Linked DNA regions of Homo sapiens. The protein of the gene in region 3 interacts with the protein of the main gene of each other region in a biochemical or structural test. Each region holds a gene or a part of one and is shown on either strand. Other genes may lie near its edges. The genes, in order: FBN1, BCAN, FBLN2 and ACAN.

Region 1 (7,034 bases), on a different chromosome or scaffold from region 3:
CCTAGTCTGGAAAATCTTTAAAGTAATGCTATCTGCTTTTCACTTACACAGAAGTGAGATGTTACCTGCCCTACCTGATCTTTTAGTGTGAGCCAACCAGGAATATTTTCTGACTCTCGAATTGGGAATAAGGTCCCCTCTACAGGGCTGAGAGGACTGATCTTTCTTCTCTGATCTAAGAGTAGAAAAGGTTTGTCTTCTGATCTAGAAAGGAGAACTGGCTGGAGTTGAAATAATAATAAATAGGAGGATGTCCACTTACATGTGTTCACAGCAGGACACATCTCACAAGGAGTACCCCAGGCTTTACCCAGAGAACAGCAGCAGGAAGCTTTGGAAACACCAACTCCAATTTCATTGCTGCAGGCTGTATCTCCATTGTCTCCTCGAGGTCGAATATCCAAATAGCAATTTCCAGAGCGGGTATCTATTTACCATATACAAACACAAAAGCATCAGGCAGAATCTTTCTACTGGGGTTGAAAATTCAAACCCACTTCAGGAACTGTTCAAAAACCGTAATTTACTTTTACTGAGAAACTAAAAAGTGCCCATGAACATTATACACTACCGAGAATTTTCCCTATGGAAAAGATATCTGAATCTAAAGTAGAGTTAGGAAATGTTTAAATTTCTGTATCATTCATTTTGCAAACTTTGAGAATGGAATGTTTGGTGCTGTTTTCAAAATAATACACAGTATGCTTGCTTCTCTGAAAAGTTTTTAAGGTCTTACCAACACAGCCAACTCGAGTTGGGTTCAGTTCAAAATCAGGTGGGCAGTCACAGATATAGCTGCCTGGAGTGTTGACACAGTTCCCACTGATGCACGTGGTTGGATCCAGGCATTCATTCACATCTAAAACCGAACAGTGAGTAGTGGAGTTATCACCTGAGCCAGTGTAGGCAGACATCACCATAAAAGAACAGGGCCCAATCTAGAGCTCCAAACAAGAATTTTAAAGCTACTAGTTATAACTACATCTAGAAATGCAGTCTTCCACTTCAGAGATAAAACACCTCAGGAAGGAAATATGATATAGTCTTTGGTGGTCTTTCCCCAGAACACATTTACCATTCAAATTTGTCATCAGGATAAAATATAACTTTGGGCCGGGCACGGTGGCTCACGCCTGTAATCCCAGCACTTTGGGAGGCCGAGGCAGGCAGATCACGAGGTCAGGAGATCGAGACCATCCTGGCTAACACAGTGAAACCTCATCTCTACTAAAAATACAAAAAATTAGCCAGGCGTGGTGGTGGGTGCCTGTAGTCCCAGCTACTCGGGAGGCTGAGGCAGGAGAATGGCATGAACCTGGGAGGCGGAGCTTGCAGTGAGCCAAGATGGTACCACTGTACTCCAGCCTGGGCGACAGAGCGAGACTCCGTCTCAAAAAAAAAAAAATATATATATATATAAAATATAATATATATTACATATATATATAAAATATAATATATATTACATATATATATATAACTTTGGCACTAGGAAAAATATTCCAGTCAAGGTAACTGAAGGCAAAACACTGTTGTGACCTCGGTCAACCAAAAATTCAGACACAGGTTTTAAGAAAATATATTGAGTATATGTGGCTTGTTATTTCATCAAATTAGAGCAAGATGTCCCAGGAAACCCTCAGAAGGGCAACTCTTGCTGCTTCCCCTGACACACACGCGTGAGGCTTAGTGTGTTCCCTGAGGTCGGCAAGGAGTGTCTCTCCCATCATCCATGCTGAGTTGAATATTTCCCTTTCAGTTTCTATTCCAAAAATATGTACAGAATTCCAGATATTTAGGACATGGGTTTTGGCAAATTCCACTCTGTACAATTCCTTTTGTCTGTTTTGAACACTCATGAAATACTCAAGAATAGACAAACGGCTTCTGTGAGGAGGGACTGGAGAAGAGGGACAACACCTTTGCCTTGGTCCTCCCCTTGGATCTGGCAACCCTCCTGCGGGTTGCGCTGCAGATGATTTTTTTGTTCAAATTGCATGTGAATTTGGACGGACAGGGCCAGAGTAACAGAAACGAGATTAGACAGAATGATGTTGATAGTGATCTGGGGCACGCAGGACAGGGTACAGGCCATGGAGAGGGGGACTTCCTGAGGCATGCAAGAGACCCAGCCTGGTCTCGTAATAGCTTTAAGGAAAACCAAGGGAAGAATGTGTGGCTGGAGAGGAATACTCCATCCAGAGCATTTGCAGGGTGGTGGTGGTGGTCATGATCTGGAGAGCCCCTGAGTCATGGTTTGTTTAGGTGGTTGAAAAGACCAGATTTTTTCCGGAAATTTGAACTCATACAGAACATAAGTTGTTTCTTCAGTATCCTTGAACAGAGGGGTGAATTAGGAAGGGGAAATGCAAATGGCTTTCAAAGTCTTAGTGCCAAAGAGAACCGAGTGTCAGTCTGCTGGGTGCCTGTAGTTTTTCTAAGCTTTTTCTAATGTTCCCTGAGAGTCCTTGGCTCAACAAGAAAATGATTTATACACTAGAGATAGGTGGCTGAGCTCTGTGTACCCAGTACTCTGGTGACCACGAGCAGGGCAGGGGTAGGAAGGAGTGGGGTGGGTATTGCAACAACGAAGTACAAGGAGAAAACCCATGATCCCGGGGCATGGCCTCCAAAACGAAACTCTCCAAAAATGTACCCAAGTAGAAAAGGAAATGGCTGGGAAGCTACACCACTAGAGCACCCCTAGAACATTCCTTTGTAGCCACAAACTCAATTTCAAGGCTACAAACTGTGCTCCTTCAATTGTCTTAGACTCTTTCCTCTGGATCCTCACCTCCAATCAGTTCCAGGTCTGAGAAAAGGTATCTGTGATTCTTAATACTTCCCCCTTGCTTTTCTTGTCTTCTGTGACGGCCCTTGTGTAGTCCCAGGGAGGCTCCAATAGCTGGGTCCCCCGGGACACCAGGGAGCTGATTTTGATGCCAGTGGAGGTCTTACCTGTGCAGTTCCCGCCGCTTCTGTCCAGTTCGTAGCCTATCTCACACTCACAGCGGAACAGGCCAGGGAGGTTGTGGCAAGTTCCAAAGACACAGATGTTCGGAAGGGAGCACTCATCAATATCTTGGGGGGAGGGAGAAAAAAGCAAAAAACTTAACTTATATTTTTCTAAAAAAAACCTGCCAAATATAATTAGGCAACTAATGTAAATACTAAGAAAATGCAGAGTATCTAACACCAATCTGGGCACTTCTCCTATAGACTTTTAGATGATTTGCCATGCACAGTGAAGTCTCGTAGGTGAGAGGTTACTTTTCCTCAGTCTCTATTACATGCCAAGCAGCGGGCTGAGCATTTTATAGATACATATCTCATTTGTAGTGTTCCACGTAGGTCCACATCACTTTCGTAAAGTAAGAGGCAAGCAAGCCACCTTACGCTAAATTCGTTTTTTTTTTTTAATCTATCTATGTAGTCACTGTTTTTGTTGTGAATTAAAATTTCACAAGCCACAATGTCTTTCAGGGAACTGTCATAATTAGTTGCATAATCTCCAGTGTCCCTAGTCCTATGGCATGTGTTTGCCTTTGTTGACGGAGATTGGAAAACCGCACACGCTTCTTCCAGGCCTCTGTCTCTGCCTCCTGTTAACATTCTTCGTGTGCAGTTGACACACAGTCACATTTTCAGGCTTGAGACTAGCTTTAAATAGCCATGACCACTCCACCAGCCATGATTTATATTAAGAACAAACAAACAAACAAAACCTTCTCTTATAGCAATAAGAGAAGCAAAACTTTCACTGTGACTATTTGTGTCACCAGAGGTGGCACAGTACCTGTTTTCCTTGGATATTTGGAGTAACAAAAGTAAACAAGGTATTAGGCACATGATCAAGAGCATAATCTGGTTTCTTGACTCCAAGGAGTTTTATATCAAACTCTGCATATTTAATATAAACTGTATAAAGAACACCCAACGGTTCCATAACAAAGAAAAGTATTCACATAAAAATACATGAGGGAATTAGTATACATGTCATAGCTAATGACTGATTTTGAGTTCACGTCTTGTTAACAAGGAACAACTATTAACTAATACATTAATCAGGGTCTTGTTTAAACTTCTACTGACAATCGTTATCATTTGTTTATTTCTACTGAAATCTTCTTTTCAATGAAGGAGAATGTGCTTAAATTTGACAAATGTGGGTAAAGGGAAGAATCTTGTGTTCCCTAATGGGATCCAGCCTTAGCTAACAGGTTCCCAGGACTCTTCGTGTCTGACCAACACTTATCAGAATGACAGAGCCTAAAGCTGAGCGATACCATGCCATATGGCAGTATCCCAAGGGTCCCCTATTGAACAGATTTGCAAAACTGTTCCATGTTCATATATGTTAGATATTTAGAGCAAATGTGAGACATACCATTCTACGTATGGACAAGACTATTTGCTCTGCTTTTATTTCTACAAACCAAATACAGTGGAGATTAAAACCTGTGTTTCCATATTTAGTGATAATCCCACAACAGGACATTATCAGGGAACTTGCACTTTCAGCTCTTTTCTCCCTCAGTAGGGATTAACAGGTTGCATCCCCCTCCGTAGGGATAAATGGGTTGCACTGATTTAACCACACTTGGTTACCCTCATTGACCAATGGATACACCCTTGCAGACCATGCGGCCAAGGCTGGATGTACAGCTTGTGGCCAGTCAGCTGAGGTTTTCTGTGCAGCAAGAGAAATGGTCAGCTGGAAACCTAATCCCTCTACAAACTGAACTGACCAGCTTAGAAATGAAGCTAAAACACACCTCAGTTTAAAAAAAAAAAAAAAAAAAAGCATCAGGAATGTTTAAATAACCTAATCTCATCAAGCCCAGCAAGGCTCCCAGTGGCTTCCCCATCAGTTACCTTCACAGGCTTTCCCGTCAGCACTGGGCACGAAGCCCATGTCGCATTCACAGCGGTATCCTCCTGGTGCATTGAGGCACTGGCCATTGCCACAGAGATTCAGGTTCTCAGAGCACTCATCAAGGTCTACAGCCAGAAAGAAACACACGTTACTCTTCCTCGGTTAGGGGCTTTCTAATTCCTCAGGTCTATCAACTTTCCAGTGCAGCAATGTTTTGGCATAACTTCAATTTGACACATTTAAAGTCATTTATTTTTCTCTTTGGTAGGCTAACACTGAATATGAAATTTACATGTGGCTGATTCAGAATCCTGAATGATAATTTACCCTGAATGATATAAAATGAATAAGCCGAAGGAATCATGCAAACTAAGGCCTGTTCAAGAAGGGTCATCCGCATGGAGGGCACACCCATGACAGGAAATGACACATCATGTTTGTGTCTATTTCTCAAGTTTCAGGCTTAGCTTAGATGGGCACCAAAAGTGCAAAAGAATGGCAACCATAGGGAGAAGAAAAATTCCATCTGCTTAATCTCTACCTAGTTTTCTTAATAATCACAGGCATTTAAATATCAAACACATAAACCACACATGCCTAATACATGGAATTTGAATATGTTCTCAAAATGATGGGAGGTTTTTGATGACAAAACATCAATAAGTTAGGCAAAAATGATTTCATCTGAGATAAAACTTTCAGGGAATAAAAAAAAATTCCAGGTAAATCACTTAATGAGCCTTAGCCTCTATTGTGCTTAAATGACTTTTTATGAACAAAGTGCTCAGGATAAATCAATGTTTTAAGTTATAGGAGCAGCTATGCGACCTAATGGCTAATGGATCTTATTATTTTATTTAACTCCAGAGCTCTGATATAAAAAGTGCTGTCTGTAAATATATGCACATGTAAGTATATGTATAATTTATGTAATGACAAGTCTAATCATGTATGTTTACATGTGTATAGAAGTTTATGTTAATTCTATGGCTATTAATTAGAGCCAAAAAGAAAATTTCATTAATATATTATTGCAAAACTGGAAGTGAATGAATTCCATAGCAGGTTTGAAATTTTTACTTATACCAATATGGAATGTTGATGATGACGATAATGATGATGATGATGGCCTGTTGGAGAGAAATACATACTGTTCTTCTAATCTAGAACATCTAATCCCTTCTCCTTACATAGTTCCCTACAGCAAGCTTATCCTTGTGTTGGTACAGAAAGGAAGTCATTGGTGAGAAATAGGCAAAAAAAAAATAATAATAAATAAAGGCTAGGCATATAAAAGGAAGTATGATTTGTTTAAACTAATGACATCATTATATACAGTCATATAATGATATATATGCCAATTGTAACTATTATAAGGCCTAGCTGACTTGAGGTGGAGAATGGTATGACTTTTTTGGTATCATTTTATGTTAGAGCACAGATCACTGTAAATGATGTGATAATGGCACCTAAATATCTATCTATCTATCTATCTACCTACGTATCTACCTATCGAGAAGCTTTTGAGGTCTCCCTAATTGACCTGGTTCCAATTTTTTTTTTCCCACAGAGCTCTAGTGCCAAATGATGAATCTTTTCTATTAACTGACCCAGTCTTCAAAAAAGAATTGCTAGCCTGAGAAATGTGGAATGCCTGGCTTCTCTGACTAGTGTTGACACAGTTGTTTCCAGCGTGAACATACCTGTACAAGTGAAGCCATCACCTGTGTATCCTTCCTTGCACAGACAGCGGTAAGATCCCATGGTATTCTTGCAGTCTGCATGCTGGCTGCACATATGGGTTCCATTGGAACATTCGTCCAGATCTTATAGAAAAAGGTTATATCATTATTAACAGAAAGGGTGGTATTTAAAACCAATAATACACAAATTAAAATAACTTTACATAATTAATATTTTCATATGTGTAATCTATGCAGTCCTTGATAAGCAACCTCTGTTACTTTCCTACTCACCAGTGCACTTAATGCCATCTCCAATCCACCCGGGACTGCAGCTACATTTGAAGCTTCCTGCTGTATTGGTACATACAGCATGTTTGCCACAGTTGTGTGCTCCAATTTCACATTCATTGATGTCTGGAAAAATGAGCAGTGATTTAGAAAAAGGCTCAGCACAAATGTCTTTTGGTTTTTAA
Region 2 (6,948 bases), on a different chromosome or scaffold from region 3:
CCAGAATATTCCTCCAAAGATCTCGAAGCACTTACACTCTCATAAAAAGGATGTGTTGTGACATTGAGAAATGGAGACTGAGGCTCAGAGAAGGATAGGGCTGACCCTGGATCCCTAGTAAAGCCAAGTCAGGCACGAGGGCAATGTGCTCCCAGGAGAGAAGACTCAGAGCTACATCATCTTTAAGGGTTGGGCTAAACTTAGAAGAGCATGGAGATCCAGGTATGCCATGGAATAGGCCAATGATGCAGCAAGAGAATTGAAGGTTAGACTACAGGCAGGACTTCCTAGAGATCAGGTTTATTCCACTGGCTGTGCACTCCCATTCCAGGCCCACTGTTTATCCCCCATCTTCCCTGCCCTCTCAGCATCTGCCTTCATACCTGTCCCTGCACTTTCCTAAGCCTGAGATGATGGGAAATTTCCTACTTTTCCCAGATCCTCCCACCTCCCTGCCATCATAACCCCCATCTCCCCCACTGTGTCTGGATATCATTCCCTAGGGTCAGAGTTGGGAGAGGAGTGGCACAACCAGATGCTTAGGGCCTCTCTCTGACCTTTCAGAGGGAGGAGGTTCTTGATGGGGCCAGATTAGAGGTGCGGAGACCAGCTCCAGGCATTGGGGTGCTTGGGAGGACTGTTCTGGGGCTGGAGTGGGGACCATTGGGCAGGAGCAGCCAGTGCCCACCGGGTGCTGGGAAGACTGTTTGCCATGCATCTGAGCTGTGCCAGGGCCTGGGCCTGGCCCCCTTCTGGTGCCCTCCCTCCCTTCTCTCTGGGCTGGAGCTGGAGCTGCTCACAGACCTGGCTCCCATCTCTCTGACGGGCAGCCCAGAGACCCATATAGTTGGAGTCATTTTGGGGCCAACACCCTGGACCACCCTTTCACCTCTGTCTGACAGTGGGAGAGTGAGGGAAGAGGGCCTAAGGCCAATGAGGACCTAACTGCTCTGGAACATGGAGGGCAACCTACCCTTGACCCCAAAAATGGGAGTCACTGACCAGTGAGGCCAAGAGGGTAGCCCCGTGCAGTTCTGAGAGAGCTCTGTCTCTCCAGTCTCGGGCCTCAGCCTCCCAATTGCAGCTAGGAGCCCTGAGGAAACTCAGACTTCCCCACATCCGGTACCAGCCTCAGAACCCAGGGGTCCAGGGTTCTGTGGCCTTCTCTATCCCACACACCACTCATCTCCACTTCCTCTTCTCTTCCTCCAGAGCAGGCCACACCTCTCCAACTCTAACCCTGAGAGCTCAGCAGTCATGCGGTCCGTTCCCTTGACGCCACAACATCCCCCTCTCTGTTTCAGCTCCAGCGTCTGTATCTCTGCCCTTGTTTTGAATTTCTTGAGCTGTTCAGGAAACTTTCCTCTTGTCACATCATTTCTGTCTGACCCGGGATGTCCATCTCCCTCACAGTCTTCATAGACCCAACCCAGAGAGTTAAGACCAGGTCTCTCTCTCTCTCTCTCTCTCTCTCTCTCTCTGTGTGTGTGTGTGTGTGTGTGTGTGTAGGCATGCACGTGTGTACACACATCTAACAACACCCACCACCTCCATGCTGAATGCCCATCAGCCGGCAGCCAAGGTCTGTCCCATAGGAACTGAGCTCCAGCACTCAGCAGGGTCAGCAGGGAGGCACAAGAAGCCAGAGCTTTGGCTATAGCAGGAGGGAAGCTCTCTGCTACCCCCTTAACGGCTTCATGAGGAGCAACATGAGCCTACACAATATAAGCAGGGCCTTAGGGCCTGTAGAAGTAATTGCAATCATCATATAAATAGTCCTTTTTATTGGAAGCAAAACTAATAATACTATTAGCAATGACACCAGCCGAGCAGTTGCAGATCCCTCTCGTATAGAATCTGAAATGTGGATGATGCTGTTATAAATAGCAAAGTTAGCCATAGCAACATAGGCACTGGTAATACTGTGGGTGGGTCTAAGGGTAACACTGTTCCCTGATCTTACTGTCATCATCTGCAATCTAAGTAATGCAGATAATAATGGTGCCCCTTGGACTTGACGCCAATCTCTTGGTCCTATTAGAACCATGTAGGCAGAGCTATTCCAATAGGTGGGGGAATACCTGACAGGATATGGAAATACCTGGGAGAGGGAATTCCCAGGCCCCTGGCAGTGCTAGGAAGGAATGCAATAGTGGTAACCGAATTCCAGCTAATAGTTACTGATGTCTACCTGAGCCAGTTCTCCTAAATGCTTCCTGTGGATAACCTCAACTGTGAGAAAAAGATTGTTTATGTTTTGCTCATTACACCGATGAGGAACCCGAGGTTCAGAGAAGTCAACTAACTACCCCAAGGTCACAGAGCAAGGAGCCGAGTTGGGATTCCAGCCGAAATGGGCACTCCGACCACCCCCTAGAGCGGCTCTGATCGGCTGTCCTGCCGGACTACAGTAAGGTGTCCCCAGAAGGGTTGCTGGCCGCTGCTCCTGGAGCTGCCTGTGCGTGGGGGCACGGAGGCAAGGACTGATCCGGAACGCTACCGCCCTGCCTGGGACAAGGTCGGAAATCTCGGCGGCCGCGCTGGGACAGGAGCGCGCAGCAGGGAAGATGCGAGGACCCGAGGGGTTGCTGATCAGACTGCGAGCAGCAGGGGGGCTGCCACTGGCAGAGCTGGAAGCATGTAGATCAGAGATGGCAGCAGCAGCTGCAGGCGCTCGGGGCTGTCCAGCAGCCTACCCCGCTGCGGTGTCAGGAGTCGACGAGTTGGGTGCCCCAGAGCCTCGAGGCAAGGGCTGACAGGCGGGGGGCGCAGACCAGGCAGGCACTCCCTTCTCCCTGTCCCCGACCCCACGGCGGGCGGCGGGGCTGCGGAGGCACTCACCTACCCAGGGCTGGGGTTGGGTCGCGGCACTGCGAAGTTTGTCGCCTCCTCCGGGGGTCTCCTCCGGGTGCACGGCTCAGTCCTGCAGCTGCAGCTGAGACTGCGGCGGAGACTGCGCGAGCGTGAGGAGAGGCTGGGGCCGCAGGACATTCGGAAGAGGGCGCCGGCCCTCCCGGCGCAGCACAAAACCCCCTTTCTTCCCCCCGCCCCTGCCCCGCCCTCCCCGGGGCCGCCCCCGCCCCCTGGTCGGGAGCGCGGGGCTCTCGGGACGGTCACGGGACCCGCTGCCTTCTCTGCTTCGGCTCCGGCAGCAGCGGCGAGAGCAAGGACGAGCGAAGTAGGACATCGTTCAGCGGATGAGAAGCCGAGGGCTTGGAGTAGGGAGGAGGGGCAGGAGGGGCGGGGAGGGAGCGTTCGCCCAGCGTTCGCTGAGCTAAAGGATGACGATGTTGCAGCTGGAGGGGTGGAAGTTGGACAACTGGAGAGTCTTCTCGTTGTTCAAAGAAGAAGGAGGAGGGAGTCAATTAGACTGTAAGAAGTGGATGAAGGGAGAATGGGGGCTTTGCTCCTGAAAAGAGACACCCTTTCTAATAAAAAAAATGGAAAACTCTTTTCTGGAGGCAGAATGGGGTGCAAAGGACCGTAGCTACCTCCCTGGAGGCAGCTATGATTGGGCATTGGCTCCTGTGGTGCTCCCACTCCCTGCACAGAGGAGGAGCTGACTTTGCAGCTGGAAGGATGGAGGTTAGACAGCAGAATCATGGGTTAAGCAAAGCAATTCAGGAAATCTCTAGACCTGGGGTGGGGGTGGGGTGAGGGTGGCCCTGTGAAGGGACATTACCAGTCATGCAAACCAATGTGCAAAATGCAGGCGTTGCTGGGAGCCCAGAAGGCCTACTGGCCAGGGCTGTCGATGCTGAATGTGCAGCCTGATGCCAGGGGGTGGGCCTTGAGTGCTGCCCAGCCAGGAACTCCTCAGCGCCCAGAATACCAATGACCCTCCTTTCCCCCAGCTCCAGGGCCTCTGCTTCCCTCTCCTTTCCCAGGCTCTCTTTGCTTTTCCCTCCTCCCTCCTGGGACTGTAGGCAAAGCCCCTGGCACGGACAGTGGGCAGGACAGCCAGATGCCTAGATTCCCTCCCCTGGATACCAATATTGGCACCAAGGATAGCTTTGGAGGGCTTTGATCCTCATAATCTCCACAGCATCTTCAAAATACCCCAAGTAAAGTAAGGTGCATTCAATGCAAATGCAACCTCAAGGCAGATCCCCAGCCTTCCATCTAGACTGCACCCTAGGTCCCTCTTGGGAACTCTGGACTGCTCCCCACTGAATGTGCCAACGCCCCCACTCACCACTGCCTGGCTTTCACTCCCAGTGCCATGGACTTGGTTCCAAAGGGCTTTGAGAACCTCACATAAAAACCCACTCCAAATCTTTGAGGGTCTAAAGGGAAGATTCTGGCCCCTTCCCAGAGACCCATCTACTGTAGGGACAGGAAAAGAAGACCTGGGGGGTAGGGAGGGGTAGATGGTAAATTTCCTTACCAAGAAAAATGCCAGCCAGGTGCGGTGTCTCATGCCTATAATCCCAGCATTGGAAGGCCAAGGTGGGCGGATCACCTGAAGTCGGGAGTTCAAGACCAGCCTAGTGAACATAGCGAAACCCCATCTCTACTAAAAAAATACAAAAATTAGCCGGTGTGGTGGTGGACACCTGTAATCCCAGCTACTTGGGAGGCTGAGGCAGGGAGGATTGCTTGAACCTGGGAAGTGGAGGTTGCAGTGAGCTGAGATCGTGCCACTGCATTATATCCTGGGTGATAGAGTGAGGCTCCCTCTCAAAAAAAAAAAAAAAAAAAAGAAAAGAAAAGAAAAGAAAAGAAAAATGCCCCAGAAAGGATGCAAGACTGAAGGGGACAGAGGAAGGTGCCTGGGACAGTCTGGGGAGGAAGGGACCTCGATCTATTTACTTCGTTAGACCAATATGAGTTGAATTGAATTCCAGCTGTGGACCAGGAACTGCTCGAGGCCTGGAAATGCAGTTCCAATTCTTCTAGTAGAAAGAGCGGATCTGAGAAGGCCTTCGGGGACAGATCTGGGCAGCCTTAGGATGTCTTTTTGCTCCCCTTAGAAGTTGCATTTCAGAGCTGCAAGAAAACCCCCCTTCCTCAGGACAGTCTCAGCATGGATGCATGTGTCCAGCCTACCTCCACACTGGCTCTACAGGGCTTGAGGCCAGCCAGGCTGAGCCAGGCAACCAAGCGGCTGAAATTTAATCCCAGTGGTGGCTCAGATGTAACCACAGTTCTTGCCTCAGGGAAACCTGGCTGTGACCAGAGAAGGCAGAGAAAGTGACCTTCCTTACCACCTCTCCTCATGACCAGAAGGATTGGCACTCACTTCGGTGCCCTGGGGGAATCCACCCTTGACTGAGGCCAGCAGCACCTGGGTCTGGACAAGGGCTGGTACCAGACAGTCTGTTCCAAAAAGCAGATCCCTGGTGGGAGACCAGACGTGGTGAGAGAACAGACAGCTGCTGTTGCGCAGACGAGGACTCTGGCATCACAGGCACTGAGGTCAAATTCCTGTTTTGTCATTTGCAGTGGCAAACCTCAGAAAGGGCCCCGTTCCTCCTCTGAAACTCTCTCTTCTGAACAGTGGGCTGAATAATATCTACTGCACTGGGCAATATCTACTGTACCTGTTCTAGGCAAGGGAAACCCCTGGCCCATGACTCGGGCTTAGCAAAATCTAGTTCTTTTCCTTTCCCAGTCACACACACTTGCGCACACACACAGCAACCTAATCTGCCCAGATCTCCTGGCCAGGAGGTCAGAGGACCACTGCCCTGGAGAGCTCATTATTTGGGAGTAGAGACCTTTCCAGAGGATTTCTCAGGGGAGGAAATGGGCACTCTGAGGCTTTTCCAACATTTCCAGCTGAGAAAATTTATACTGAAGGCTAACCTGCAGTTTGAACCAGCAATTGCTGATCAGAGACTCTCTTTACAATTACGGACACTTGGCCATATGTGTCTTCCCCCGTTTCTATTTACTTTCTGAGAGGAGGCAAGAATCAGCCTCCTCCAGAGGCAAGAACCCCCTCCAGAGGAGGGGCTCTGCCTAGCCCCTCCAGATCTCAGAAAGAGATCCCTGGGGATTGGCTGAAAGCAAACAGAATCAATGGCAGCGGGAAGAATGAAAGTCAGATTTCAGGTAGAACCTCCTGTCTCAGTAACAGGAGAAAAATTCCTCCAGTAACCTTGAATATCTTCTGAACACGGAAACTGAGACCCAAAGAGGTCAAGCAACTGTCCAGAGTCACACAGCATGGAACTGGCTGAACCATGACCAAAAATCAAGTCTCCTGACTCCCAGGCCAAGGTTCTTGCCAGGGCTCCCCAGATGTCTATCAGGGGAGGGAGAAAGAGGGAGGTGGAGAGAAGAAAGAGAGAGAGGGAGAGCGTGGGCAGCTCTCCTCCCTCTCCCACGTGCAGCCCAGCTGGCTGCCTCCCAGTCTCCTGGGCCCTGGGGAATTTTCCAGCCTCTCTGGATGAGAACAATCAATCTCCTGCCTCCACCGGACCCCCAACATCCCCCATCCATGCCAAAGCTGAGGCCATGACCCAAGTTGAGAAAAGAGAATCTGCCCTCCACGCTCCTGCATCCTGAGTTCCCCCCATCTCCAGTGTTAGCCTTGGGCCTTCCTCACTGGATTCTATTCCACAGTGGCCACTGGGAGAGCCTGTCCTGCCAACCTCCTTGAACACCTGCCCCCTTTCTCCCAGACTTGGAGTGGGGGCCTAGGCAGCTGAGTTCCTCTCCGAGGCCCTGCACGGGCATCTGGGTCTTGTGCCATAGGCATGTGGGAGTAGGGCTGAAGAGGGGGATGTGGCTCTGAATGCTGGCACAGCTGTGTTCAGAGAATGGGGGCTTTGATAGCTTCTGAAAGAGGCCAGGAAGCACGGGACCCCAGCCCAGGCAGGAGGGGGTGGGGGGCAGAAATGGCTGAGTGTGGCTCTGAGGGCTCTTGCTGCCGCAGACAGGGAGTGTGGAGTGGGAGGGGATGTGGAGCAGTAGGGAGACAGCAATGGGGACTACAGGCTG
Region 3 (7,203 bases):
CAAACCAGAATCCACCAGCAGCTCCTCATCACACCCAATCACCTGCACCTGCTGTGAGTGAGGATCACTTGAGGCCAAGAGTTCAAGATCAGCCTGAGTAACAAAGTGAGACCTCATCTCTACAAAAAATAGAAAATTAGCTGGCTGGTGTGCGTCTGTAGTCCCAACTACTTGGGAGGCTGAGGCTGGAGGATCACTTGAGCCCAGGAGTTTGAGGCTGCAGTGAGCTGTGATCACACCACTGCACTCCAGCCTGAGAGACAGGACGAGATCCTGTCTTTAAAAAAAAAAAAAAAAAGGAGGGGCCGGGCACGGTGGCTCACACCTGTAATCCCAGCACTTTGGGAGACTGAGGCGGGCGGATCACGAGGTCAAGAGATGGAGGTCAAGTGGCTGTGCAATCTTCACCTTAGGCCCGAATTTGCTGCAGAGAACCCAGTTTCACTTACCATCAGCATGCCCCAAGCATTTACGAAGCACCTATTGCGTGTGAGGTGTGGATGGGCTCAGGGCACTCCCCCCACGGCCAAGGAGACCAAGTCCTCCCACTAGTGGCTCAGTAAGAGGGGCAAAGAGCTTTGCTTTGGAGGGAAAAGATCCTGGGCTGAACCCCAGCTCTCCCCCTTGCCTGCTGGGAGGCCCTTTCTCTACCTCCCCTTCCCCGTCTCTTAAATAGGTGCAAGAGTTCCACCCTGCAGGAGGGATGTCGGGATCTGGGAAGAAAAGTGATGAATAAAGCCTGCCTCGGAGAATGCTCTCTGGCATGAGCTCTTGCTTCACGGGGTCCCCATACCACCGTCCCCCACAGCCTAGCAGGAAGTGTCTGCCACCATCACAAAGATGCCCTGTGGCCCAGGGCCCTGGGCACCACTCATTGCTTCAACGACTAAGGCCTCGAAGGGTAGGAGGCCCGCCCAGGGCTTCCCCAGCCATGCATGGAGGACCAGCCTGGGCCTATGCTTGAGGCGGGCAATGGAGCAAAATCAGCCCAATGCATGCAGCAGTCACAGCCGCACAAAGGCCACGCAGGCCAGGCAGGAGCTGAGAAGGCATGAGAGGGCCAGGTGGGGACGGGGACCAAACAGCGCCCCTGCCCCATCCCCTGGGTTGGGGGTGGGCAGCACCAGCCAGGAGATGCAGATCCTGAACTACCAGACCTTGTGACTTTTCAAGAGAAGACGGAAATCCGGACTTTTACGTGAAAACTGCCAATTTGTAAATGCAGGCAGCTAATTAATTTTTTAAAATAATAATAACATGGTGAGAGCCAAACAAAACATGCAGGGCCAGCCACAGCCGGGGCTGGCAGGTTTGTGCCTCCAGAATAAGATTCTTTGACTTCATCCCCTGCTCACCCCCATCACACAGCTCAGCTGCAGAAGGGGAGGGCGGGAAGTCAAGGGTGCACCCCAGGGGAGTAGCTCCCCCTCCCTCTCTTCCTCCTGCTGGGGAGTCTTCACCCCATTTGGCATATGGGGAAGTTAAGGCCCAGAGCCCCTATCAGCCACAAACACACACCAGCTCCCAATCCATGCCAGGCTGAGGGAACACTTCTCAGCTGCCACCCAATTCATCAGGGCTCCCTCTGGGAGGGCCCGGACCAGCATCTCAGGGGCATCAGGGTAGACACAAGCACCCAAACCATCCTGTTTGACTTCCCTTTTTCTCTTTTTGGCCTGTCAGGGGACGCCTGCTGGCTCAGGCCTGCTTGGGACTGGCCCAAGTGATCACTGCAAAGCTGATATGGGCAACTCCTTGTGGCAGCAAAAAAGGGAGGGAGGGCACCCCTATTTCGGAGACTGGAGCAGGGGAAGGGAGAGAGGATGCACGGAGGTGAGGAGTCAGGCCCAGCCTGAGGCTGAGCCACCCCCATGCTCCCCACAGCCACCCAGGTCCCATGGTAAGCAGCCTCTGTCAGGAGGAACCACCTCCCTCCTCCAAAATCGGCTCCCCACCCCCTAGGACAGGGGAGGACTGCCCATGGAGTGCCAGGGGGGCTGGGACTGTGAAGTCGTGGGGGTCTGTGACTCGTATGTGAGACTCACAGTGTGTGGCACTCCCAGTGTTTGTGATTCCAGGTATTTGAGGAGCACACGCATGTGAGAGACACATGTGTGATACATATGATGGAGATATGCATGTGATAGCTACCCCTGTGTGGCGGACGTGTGTGCGTGTCAGAGGGCAGTAAGGGCACATGTGTTTATCAGAGACACAACTGTCTGCTAGAGGCATGCCTCGGAGGGGTGCCAATGTGCAAGGCATGTGTGTGTGGAGCATTGTGTGCTAAGGGGACGTGAGATGAGTGTGAGAGATTCTGGCCTGGGGGAGCTGGCGGGGTGAGCATGGGGCTGGGAGAGGGAGGATGTGGTGACAGGCAGGGTGGGCGCGCCAATGCAGAGCGTGCAGAAACTTCTGCTTGTGTGAGTGCGTGTGTGGCGGTGAGTGTGACTTGGGGGTGATGGAGGGGGTAGTGTTAGACCAGGGACTCTAGTCTTCTTTCCCCGAGGGGGTTGACCCGGCCCTCTGGACTGGAGGGGCGGCAAGGTCCTGCGGTCGGGGTGGGGGTGGGCAGTGGGACCAGAGGGGATGACTGGTGGGAGCCGGCCCAGGGGGGAGAAGTGAAACCCAGAGCGGAGGAAGCTGCGGACCTGGGGTGGGGGAACCCGCCCGCGGACCCCTGGCCCCCACCCCGCGCCGGCCTCTGTGCCCGCATCTGTACACTGGGTCGCGGCGCTCGCGGGCCGTCCCCGCGCTGGGACCGGGAGAGCGAGACCCGGTCGGACCGGCGGCGCGGGTGGAGGCGCGGGCAGCCCGCGAGGCGCGTCCGAGGGTCCGCCGAGCCGTCGGTGCGTCCGAGCGCCCCCGAGTCCTGAGCTGCGAGGCGCGGACCGACGGGGATGAGTCCGGGCGGGAGGGGCCGCGTGCACTCACCGCGGGGCACTGCGCTCGGCGTCCGTCCGTCCGTCCGCCCGGCCGTCGGCGCGTCGAGAGCCCGGGCGGCCCCTGGCTGTGTGCGCGCGGGGCGGGGCGGAGGCGCGAGAGGCGGGACCAGCCGGCCCCCGGCCCCCTCCCCTGACTCCGCCTCCGCCTCCGGGGCGGGGTCTCGGCCGCCCGCCGGAGAGGGGGCCGGGCCGGCGCCGCTCGCTCAGAGCCCAGACTCGCTGACCCGGCTCCTAGAGGCCGCCCGGCGCGCTCGCTGCGGAGCCCGCACCCTCCCTGCGCCCGGCCTAACCTCTGAGTGCCAGACCTGGCACTGCTGCCCACAGGGCAGGGCCAGGGGTTGGGGTCCGGCCACCTCAGCCAGCCTGAGCCTCAGTGATCACCCCTGGAAGATGGGCCCAGCAGCCTTGGGCACATTGTGAGGGCCTGAGGGGCCCGGCTACAAAACTGCCCAGAGGCCAGGCCCTGCCTCCCACCCGCCTTGCTTCCTACCCTGGGGGCCTGCCTGCAGCCCCACTGCTGCTGCATGTGCCTGGGCAGACGGTACTGAGCCCCCAGCTTTGGAACAGGTTCAGTTTGTCCTTTTCCTCAGCCCAGCTCTGATGCCTGTGACCACTGTGTGACCCCCGGGGTGTCTCTTCCCCCAGCCCACACCGATCCCTTTCTGGGTCTCTTTCGGGGTCTCCATCTCTGATCTAATGTCATCTCTCTGTCTCCCTTGGTTTGTCCCTCTTGGTCTCTGCATCTCCCTCTGACTTTATCTCTTGGTCTCTGTGTCTCTCTGAGTCTCTCCCATCCCTGTCCAGAGACGTATGGCCTGGTGGTCACCACCTCACATCTGAGCAGCAGCCATGGGCCCAAAGTGTGCCTGCCCCCACCCCCAGGGGTCTCCCTGCAGCCCAGGACAGGGGTGAGGCAGCCAAGAGCAAAGGCACAGGGCAGGGCAGCTGCCTGCCCAGGGCCGCACAGCAGAGAGGAGGTGGAGCCAGGAAGGGCCCATTGGCTTAGATGGGGCCACCCACAGAGAAGCCAGGAGCGGATGGAGGGGCCAAAGCCTGAGCTGGCAGCCTGTGCCTGGCCTGCCCCAACTTGTGTCTAACCCCAGGCAGGTGCCTTCCCTCTGGGCCCGTTTCCCCATTGGAGCTCTGTGCTTGCTGTTCCCTCAGGGCCTTTGCCATTGCTGTTCCCTCTGCCTGGGATGCTCTTCCCCAGATCCACCGTGGCTGACTCATCCCTGCATTAAGATGCAGCTGAAATCCCACCACCCCCAGAGAAGCCCTCCCTGAGACCCCAGCAGAGGTAGCAACTACCACTCTCCACCCTGGGACTCGGCCGCACTGTTATTACAGTACTTGTCACTGGCTGATTTCTCTTATTCATTTATAAATGACTATAGGTAGGATCACCTGGTCATTAAGAAAGTCACCACACACCAGCTGTGTGACCTTGGGCAAGTTACTTCACCTCTCTGGGCTTTATTTCCTCAACTGTAAAATGAACATAACGACATCAAAGCCTATCTTATAATGTTATTGGAAAGATCAAATGAACCGAAATGAGCCAAACCGAAAGTACAGATGCTCCTCGATTATAATGGGATCATGTCCCCATAAACCCATCGTAAATCGAAAATATAGTAAGTTGAAAATGCATTTCATCCACCTAACCTACAGAACATCATAGCTCAGCCAAGCCTACCTTAAATGTGCTCAGAACACTTCCATTACTAGCCTACGGGTGGGCAAAATCATCTAATACAAAGCCTATTTTATAATGAAGCATTGAATATCTCATGTAACTCATTGAATACTGCACAGAAAGTGAAAAACAGAATGATTGCCTGGGGATTCCAAGTAGGGTTTCTCCTGGGTGTGTACCACTTTCTCAACATCCTAAATTCAAAAAATCCTAAATCGAACCATCGTAAGTCAGGGATTATCTGTACTTTGGATGGGACTTGACCCAAGGGAGTGCTCAGTAAATATCTGATGAGTAAATGACAGATTGAATCCTTCCTCCTGTGGGGGAAGGAGGGGCAGTGGCCTGGGGTGATAGAGACCCTGGGCAGCTGCTAATGAGGCTCCCTTCCCCAGGCCTGGGAGGAGAGGCACTGAGCCAGATGCAGCTCACTCTGCAGCCCAGGGAGCCCAAGGCCTGGCCCGCCTTCCACAAGATAAAGTGGAGACACTTCTCCCGTCCTGTTATCTGAGCCGGAGATGCGGCCAAAGCGGCTGTCCCTTCAGAGCCCTTCCAAGACTGTTATCGCAGACAGAGCACGCATCACCCACCAGGAATTTGGGGCCCAGGGCCTGGCTGAGAAATGGTTGGAGGAAGTCAGGCTGATAAGGCCTAGACAGAATGATCACAGTGGGCAGCGAAGTTATTTACATCAGTGACAATCTCACCAGCTCCCTGGGCACTGAGGCGCCAGGGCCAGCAGGCATGAGGCTCACTTGTCCCACCTGTGCAGCCTGGATTGGGAAGAGAAGCCTTGCTGAGCTTCCTGGGTCTGCATCCTCACTGGGTAGCCTTGGGGAGGCTGCCTACGTTGGAGCATGGGTTCTGGGACCCAATGGCTTTGATTTAAATCCACATCCTCCCTGTATGACCTTCAGCAGGTGGCTTCAACCCTCTGGCCTCAGTGTCCTAGCCTATAAAGAAGTTCCTGCCTTATAGGATTGTTTTGAAGTTAAGATGCTTACAGCAGTGTCTGGTATATCATAAGCCCTCCATTAAATGTTTGTTGTTGTTAATCACAAACAACATTAACTTGAGCTGTTTGGATGAGAAAAGAAATTTGTGATCACAGTGTGCCTGGAAACCAAGCTTCGGGGAGAAAGGCCCAGTGACAGGGCCCAAAATCTCGCTGCCCACCTGGGTGCAGACAGCGTGAGGGCTGCCCACTCCTTGAATGGTGGGCCCCGGACTCCCCGCCAGGACTTCTCCCCAGCTCCCTCCAAGGGTCACAGTGCCTCTCCTTCCCCAGCAGTGGGTTCGGCCCTGAGCCTGCTTAGTCATCTCTCCCACCTCCCATTTGACAGCAGCTGCAGCCACAGTGGGGGCAGTGTGGGTCTCCCATCTGTCCCCAGTTGCAAGAGATACTAGGAAAGTCAGTGTCCAGGCCCCCCAAGACCCTCGAGGGGAAGAATTCCACACGATAGGAAAGATATCTAGACATAGGCCCACCTCCCCCAGGGGACAGCCCCACCTGCCATCCTGCTGCCCAACGAAGACCCAGGACACCACACCCGCTCCCAGGCTTTAGAACAAGGCTTCTCAGACCTGGCAGTGCATCTGAATCACCTGGGGAATTTCTCTTTTTTGTTTTTTTTTTTTTGTTGTTGTTGTTGTTTTGGAAATACCACTGTCTAGACTCTACTCCAGAACAATTAAATCCCAGTCTCCAGAGGGTGGAGTTGGGCATCAGTACTTTTTTTTTTTTTGTAATCCCCAGTAGGTTGTAAGATGTGCTGCCAGATTTGAAAAACACCACTTGGGGTACCTCCCTCTAGCCTTCCTCTTCCAGCTTTGTCCCTCCCCAGAGTGAAGAGTCTAAGAGAACAATGAGATGTGCCCGCCAGGAGTCCCTGATGACCCCCTACTCCTTTCCAGATCATATGCCAGTGCCCGGAAGTCCCTGCTTAAATGGCCCTGACCCCCAAAGCCTGCACAAGTCTCTTTCCGTCTTCCCTCCTCCCAAGAGTGGACTGCACACCAGTCTATACACCCCAGGCCCAGGCCCGAGGGCAGCTGCTGGCAGGTAGCATGAGCAGAGCATGGACATGTGGGCACACAGTCACTCCTGGGAGCCGGACACAGTCACTCCTGGGAGCCGAGTTCAGGCTCTCTCTGGTCTGGATCCCCACTGCATCTCCAGCCTTTCACCCACCTACACCCCGTCCTTACATCCCAGAGCCCTACTCCTCACCCAATGAAAAGCTGATTTCTTCTCTTACACCAGGAACTTCCCCACCTCTCTGCCTGTCCATCCCACTGTGAATGCTGTTCCACCTACCCACATCCTTCCTACCCTGTGGCAGAAACCCTCATCGGCCCCCACCATTCATGTAAGAAACATAACTATAGAAATTTTAGATGGCTTTCTGGCTGAAGATTTCACTCCCACCCTCCCTGGCAGCCAGGTGGGACCACAAACATGTCGTGCTGTTGAATTGGGGCAGAGTAATGTGGACAATTTCTGGCTCATGGCCTTAAAGGAAAAGATGATACAGCCACTTTGTATTACCAGGTGAGAGTCAC
Region 4 (6,859 bases), on a different chromosome or scaffold from region 3:
ACCTGGGAGGCGGAGGTTGCAGTGAGCCAACATTGGGCCACTGCACTCTAGCCTGGATAACAGAGCAAGACTCCCATCTTAAAAAAAAAAAAAAAATTCACACCAAAAGTTAGGACACACAGTCTCTTATCAAGAGAAAACATTTGAAATTTTTGCTATCCATAACTTGGGGTTTGTGACCCACAAGGGGGCTTAGGAGCTGTTAGAGGAGAGGAATTAAAGTTTGTGGTGCTTGCTGAGAGCTGGACAAGGCACCCACTTTATGTCTTTTAATCTTCACAAAAATCTCTTATCGGAGGATTTTCTCCCCTTTTTAGAGAAGAGGAAATGAAGCCTCTGGGAGGCTCAGTACCCTTATCAAAGCCATGTAGCCAGCGAGTGGCTGAGCTGGAATTTGAATCCCAGTCTTCCTTGCATGCAGGCTGTCCACCCTCCTGGCTCTTGCCGACTGTCTCAGGAGGTGAGCTCTCTCTTGGAGCTCCCTCTCTAATTGGGGAGGGGGCATAAGAGGAGGAGAACGCTCTGCCTTGGCATGCAGGGGTGAGTGGCTGCCTGGGATTGGGCGTGTGGGTGTGAGAGAGATGGGGAACAGGGGCAAGAGGTGTGCCTGGGTGTGTGGAGGGCTTCCGAACATTAAACAAAATATTCCCTTTTAAGTATGATTGTCAGTGAATATTCTAGAAAAAGAAAAACATTCATTTACTACTAGAATTAAGAATGATAATAGTAATATTAATAATATGAAACAGTTACTGAGTACTTGCCCAGTGCCAGGCACTACGCTAAGCCCTTTGCTTGGGTCATCTCATATCTGCTGTTTATTGAGTACCCGCTGTGGGCCAGCATTGAGCACAGAGCCTGGCACCTAGGTGGCGCTCAGCAGATATTGGAGAATGAATGAAAATACCAGGCACAGCACTAGAAACTACACGTAAGAATATCTAAATTAAACACAGCTCAAGGTAACCTGTGGAATTCCAGCATCTCTCCAAGAGATATCTTCTTCCTTTGGACAATTCCTTCTTCTGAAACTTTTTATACTGGGGAGATCTACTATTCTGCAATCTTTCTTTCAGGTTAGAACCTCTCCTCCCCACTGCCGCTCAATGCTTCCTCCCCCAACGAGCTTCAGGGTTTTCTTCCCCATTGCCTTTCCATTTCCTGCAGTTTCTCCCTGGAGCCTGTGATTGACAAGCCAACACTCCTAAACCGTATCTTCATAGTGCCTCCAAACCCACCTTGCCCAGGGTGCATGAGCAACCTGATTGCTCCTTGTCCATGGCAACCCAGGACAAGAAAGAGAGATAAGGATTAGAACCCAAGAATTCTGGACTCTTAAATCAGGACGAGGGACCGACTATGGCCTCAGAAAACCTGGATTCTAGTTCTGCCCTTGACCCTAAGTCACAGTTCAACCTTCAGAAATTCATTGCACCTTTCTGGGTCCACTTGCCCTCCTCTTCAGACGAGGTGGGTGAATTTTCAAGGTCCAGAGTCCCCTCTAAACTGTCAGACACCCACCCACTGCAGCACCCAGGACCCCAAAACACCGTGCTAACCCAATTCAGCTTTGTATTTTCCTCCTGGCAGCCAGCCCCACAGAACCAGAATTTACACATCAGTCAACATGCTGGAACTCCAGCTTCTTCATGGTGAAACCCTAGTAGGATCCTGTCAGAACCCAGCTCATGACTGAAAGGAGGATAATGATGGAAAAGTTTGGGTTGGATCCTGTCTCACAACCAGAGACAAGCCCCCACCCCCGCAGCTTGCTCTGCCCAGAGTGTGGTTCAGTTGACATACTGACAGCCTCCAACCCAGCCCCAGGGTTGGAAAGGGCTCCTGCTCCACCAGCATTGGCTTCGTTTGAAGAGGAACCCACAGACGGAAAAACCGCTCGTGGTCGTGTGTCCTCAACTCCCCTCCCCTTTCTTCCTTGAGAAATGCCCCTTCTTGGTTGGACACCCGTGTGTTCAGGGCACTGCTCTCCTCTCCCCTGCTGGCAGTTCAGTAGCTCTGTCCCAGGTTCTGCCACTCTCCCCTGGGCAGACTCTTCAGGCACTCTGGTCCCTGGAGTAAGCCAAGTGGCCAAGGATGGACTATCTAGCCTCGGCTTAGGACCCGCTGTGTCCCTGACATAGTGTCCATATGATTTCATTTATTCTTCCAGACCCCGCGAAGGCCTTTTCCCTCTCAGCTGACAGACGGCAGGCCAAGGCTCAGGAAGGTGAAGCACACCTTCCAGCTCAAAAGTAGCACCTCGGGGATTTGAACCCACATTCCCTTGACTCTGAAGCTGCTACTCTGTCAACCATGGGTCTTTCCAGACCCTAGGATTTAAAATCACCTAGGTGTTTGGAGAAAAGGCTCCCTTGTTCCTTCATCCTGGCGGACTAGGAGACAAGTGCCCCTCCTCACGTGTTCCTTTGCCCCATTCACTGAGTCTGCAACAGCCAAAAAGTTTGCTCAACTCCACCGCGGACGCAGCCGGTGGATGTGCTGCGCCCCCGGCACACATAGCTCTAGGGCGGAGACCAAGGCAGTGCAGCCCCCAGCCCCGGGGCGTGCAGTCTCAGTCCCGTTCCTGGCTCGCCGGGCGCCCTGGGAGAGCCTCGCTCTGGAGGGAAGGAGACAGTTACCTTGAAGAGTTGGACTCCCTTCTCCAAGAACTTCAGTCCCACACACCTGGCGAGGCAGCTGGGGGCTCCTGGGGCCGGGAGGCCCGGGTCTCGCTGCGTAGCGAGGGAGACGCTCTGCGCGGGCGCTGCGCACCCCTCCTCCTGCCGGCGTCCTGTCCGCAGGTCCCCTCGGGCTGTGGCCGCAGCGGCAACTGCTGGGTTGCGGAGTCCTGGCTGGCTGAGGGAATGGACACTGAAAGGTGCCCGGAGACCCTGGCACCCGCGTCAGACGCCGGCCGGCGAGGGTGCTGAGAGAGAGAGACCTTGAGCAGCGCTGCGCGCGTCCTCAGCTCTGCGAGCCCCCTCTGGAGCGGCGGGGAGGTAGGTGGGCGGGCGGGCGGGCATGGCGCGCTGTGACACATACATAGGGACGGGCGGGGGAGGGGAGGGCCCGTGAGGGGTGGGGGCGGGAGGGGGCGAGCGCAAAGGGAAACCCCACCCCCAGGGACCGAGGGGCGGCCGACAGGGGGAGGGGAAGGCAGAGGCGTCTGGAGCGCGCTGGACCCTGGCTCCGGACCGGCGCGCCGATGGGGAAGCCGGCCTGCGCTCAGGGCGGGAGAGGAGCGCTCCCCGGGGCGGCGCGGACCCGGCAGCTCCGGGGCTGGCGGGAGGAAGGCGGCGCGAGAAGGGCTGGAGGGCCCGCATCTGCATTGCGGTCGGCAGCTCCGCAGTCGGAGGGGCCCAGGAGGGCTGCACCCTCAGAGAATCCCCAAGTGCCCGGACTCTGAGGCCGCCGCGGCGGGACAGGGCTCCCGGGCGCCCGGCGGGGTTCTGCAGCTGAGGCTGGCCACGACGCGATCTAAGGAGGGTGCAGCCCGCTACTGTCGGCCACGATTTGGAACGACCCTCACCGAGGAGCTGGCTGAAAGTTTTTTTGGGGGTGGCGTACACCGGGATGGCAGGGGATGGTGGAGAGGGGGAGGTAAGGCGTCAGCGGGGAGGCTCACGGGGAGCTGCGAGTCTCTGGGTCTTCAAATTCCCCGGGAGAGACCAAGGACATCTCATATGAAGCAGGAATTCTCCAGTGTCTCTACAGTACTCTTTAATACCGTTTTCAGGAAAAGGAGAAAAAGAACTAGCAGCTTTTGAATCCCTCCTATGAGCCCGTTGTGTAACATACATTAACATTTCATTTAATTTTTCCAAAGAGCCCAACAAGGTAAATATGGCAACTTCCCACCTGCCCCTAACCAAAGATGTGAAAACTGAGGCTCAGAAAGTGGTGGAGATCCCTCTTGAAGGTGGGACTGAGTTCGAGTCCCAGGTCTTGTGCTCTCTGCTACACAGGCTGCTGGTTGAGCCACAGCACCTTCGGAGGACTCAAGCTGGCTGGTGACCTTCAGAGTTCTTGTGGAGGAAGCTGGTGGTGCTTCACACCAGGATGTGGTGGCCACAGTCAGGATGGTGGTGGAAGCTTCCTGACCCTCTCATTGGGCAAGAAGAGGAAGAAGTGGAATCTTTCGGGACTCCCCACTACAGAGATAATAGACCACACTTTAATCAGTTCCTTGATGAAAAGGAACTGAAGTGCCTCGGTTTCCCCAGGGCGACTCCACTGGAATTATGTGGTTATTTTACTGGCCATCTCTGCCTGGGGGCGGGACTGGCCCTGGCCCAGCACATGCTCTGTGAGCCGCCTGTCTCTCCCCTGTCCAGGGCAGTGAAGCCCCGTCGGAGGGAGCATAGTGCCCACTCTATCCACCCACCTCTCAGAGCAATGGCTAAAGTGTTCCAGTGGTTGGCCATTCTTGATTTCACCCTTTTTCTACCTGAGCGTATTGAGTCAGGTCTGTAAGTCTTGAAGCATTTAGGACACAGACAAAATGCTGGTGACCGAAGCCCCTTAGGGGGTGATAGTGGCTTCTCTCACAGATAAAGAAATGAGATGAGGCCGGGCGCAGTGGCTCACGCCTGTAATCCCAGCACTTTGGGAGGCCGAGGCGGGCGGATCACGAGGTCAGGAGATGGAGACCATCCTGGCTAACACGGTGAAACCCCATCTCTACTAAAAATACAAAAAAATTAGCCGGGCGTGGCGGCGGGCGCCTGTAGTCCCAGCTACTCAGGAGGCTGAGGCAGGAGAATGGCGTGAACCCGGGAGGCGGAGCTTGCAGTGAGCTGAGACGGCGCCACTGCACTCCAGGCTGGGCGACAGAGCAAGACTCCGTCTCAAAAAAAAAAAAAGAGATGAAATCTTAATAGTTACTGGCCTCAATGCCTGGAACAGGGAGAAATGACCCTCTGGGAAAAAAACAGTCCCTGAAATTCCAACGAGGTCATGGATTCTCATGCCTGTGTTTACCTGATGCCTTGTGGGAGAACAAATTGCTCTCATTTGTAAAATGGGTTCATGTCAACATTCATCCTAGGGCAGGTGGGGTTAATGAAGAACAAGTCAAGGGCAAATATTAATTAGGCGATTTATCTTTGTATTGAAGGGAACAAATGTTTATTGATCATCTGGTTTTGTAATGAGTCTAAGAAACATATATTGGGCACCTATTATGTGTCAGATGCTGCTTGGTACAGCAGCCTCTCAGATGGATGCCATTCCCATTTACACACTAAGAAACCAAGACTCAGAGGCCATCAAGGTAGTGAATGGGATTGGAGTACAGGCTGGTATGAATTCACACTCCCTAGCCCTAAAGGATACAAAAAACCCAGGATAATGGCAACGCATTTGGACACTTTAAAGACAGTATTCAGAGAGTCAAAGGACATGCGTGTCAGAAGGCCCTTGGTGGCATACACAGGCTCTTCCTGTCCAACTCAGGAGCTCTGTTCCAGTGTAATATTTCTGAAGCTGGTCATCTCCTCTTCTGCTAGAATACTTTACAGTTGCCTAATGCCTTTTCCAGGCTGCCCGATGCAGTCTGCTGTAAACTGGCAATTTCTAACCTCTTGCTGCTCAGAGTATGTTCTATAGACTGGCAGTGTCACCTGGAAGCTTATTCAAAATGCAGAATGCCAGGTTCCCCAGACCTACTGACTCACAATCTGCATTTTAACAAGATCCCTCCCGTGTTGTATATGCCTGCTGAAGTTTGAGAAGCACTGTGCTGACATCATTCAGCAGGTTCTACTCATTCAATCACAAATCACAGAATAAGAGAATCTCAGAGCTGGGAAGAGCTCTTGGAGAACTTTAAGGACACCCCTCCATAGAGTATGTCAGTCCTGTCCATGATGTTTCCCTCAAGTAGGACATCAGACTCTGCTTGGATGTGGCCATGAGTTTGACTCCCTTCTGAGGCCACATCCATTTTTTTCACGTGGTTCTTGTATTTAGGCAGCTTTCAGCTTTCACAGAAGCTCATGCCCAATACTGTGGATTCAGCAGTGAACAAGACAGGCCCATTTCCATCCCCCCAACCCTAACCTGTCCCAGGACCTCCTGCCACGTGATAAACCTTTCTGTTTGGAATCAGTGATCTCAAGTCTCTCCCTTCTCCCTTTTGGATTGGGTCCAGAGGAGAGCTCACCTCAATAACCTGGGTCCTGTGCTTCTGGTAATGCAGCCAACATTTATGTGCTTTTATGACAGCCTCATCATGACTCATTTGGAGCCTGCAGCCAGCTCAGACTTCCTTTTCACAGTGCTTCTGCCACCTAGCATCTCCTTTGGCTTATCCTGGTACAATGGGTTTTTCCAATCCAAGTGTGGGGCTTCATTTTTGCTTCTTTTAAACATTACACTAACTAATTCAGTTTACTACTTCAGATCATCTTGGATTCTGACTCTATTATTCTGTGTGTTTGCCATTCCTCTTAGCAGCAGACATTCTACAAAGCTAACTAGTGTGCCACTTCTATGTTTTCATTCAGGCTGCTCATAAAAATATTGCCTGGGACGGAGATTAGGGCTGAGTTCTAGAGCAGAGCACTAGAGACAGCCCCCCTGGAATGAACGACATAATCCGATATTCCAGTTATAATGGCTGTGTAACAAATCACCTCAAAACTGAGTGTCTTAAAACAATAGTTATTTAATATCTCTCATGGTTTCTATGGATCGGGAATTTGGGAGAAACTTCGCCAGGCAGTTCTGGCCTGGACTAGCTCTTGAAGTTGTAGTCAGATGTCAGTTACAGCTGCAGTTAGCTGAAAGCTTGACTGGGGCTTGAGGATCCATGTCCAAGGTGGGTCGCTCACGTGATTGGTGAATTGGTGCTGGCTGC

What was found.
Region 1: the proteins of FBLN2 (region 3) and FBN1 form a complex in vitro, tested with the Homo sapiens proteins (one study listed by BioGRID).
Region 2: the proteins of FBLN2 (region 3) and BCAN form a complex in vitro, tested with the Homo sapiens proteins (one study listed by BioGRID).
Region 4: the proteins of FBLN2 (region 3) and ACAN form a complex in vitro, tested with the Homo sapiens proteins (one study listed by BioGRID).

What each region holds. Positions count from the first base shown.
Region 1 is NC_000015.10:48,467,676-48,474,709, forward strand, and holds part of FBN1 (fibrillin-1 isoform a preproprotein), read right to left. Parts: intron 6,976-7,034; coding exon 6,853-6,975; intron 6,703-6,852; coding exon 6,580-6,702; intron 5,002-6,579; coding exon 4,876-5,001; intron 3,082-4,875; coding exon 2,959-3,081; intron 860-2,958; coding exon 737-859; intron 428-736; coding exon 263-427; intron 1-262.
Region 2 is NC_000001.11:156,638,169-156,645,116, reverse strand, and holds the start of BCAN (brevican core protein isoform 1 precursor), read right to left. Parts: upstream 3,001-6,948; 5' UTR 2,842-3,000; intron 2,735-2,841; exon of another isoform or gene 1-2,734. UniProt on the Homo sapiens protein: May play a role in the terminally differentiating and the adult nervous system during postnatal development. Could stabilize interactions between hyaluronan (HA) and brain proteoglycans.
Region 3 is NC_000003.12:13,544,940-13,552,142, reverse strand, and holds the start of FBLN2 (fibulin-2 isoform a precursor), read right to left. Parts: upstream 3,019-7,203; 5' UTR 2,935-3,018; intron 1-2,934. UniProt on the Homo sapiens protein: Its binding to fibronectin and some other ligands is calcium dependent. May act as an adapter that mediates the interaction between FBN1 and ELN.
Region 4 is NC_000015.10:88,799,590-88,806,448, reverse strand, and holds the start of ACAN (aggrecan core protein isoform 3 precursor), read right to left. Parts: upstream 3,014-6,859; 5' UTR 2,640-3,013; intron 1-2,639. UniProt on the Homo sapiens protein: This proteoglycan is a major component of extracellular matrix of cartilagenous tissues. A major function of this protein is to resist compression in cartilage. It binds avidly to hyaluronic acid via an N-terminal globular region.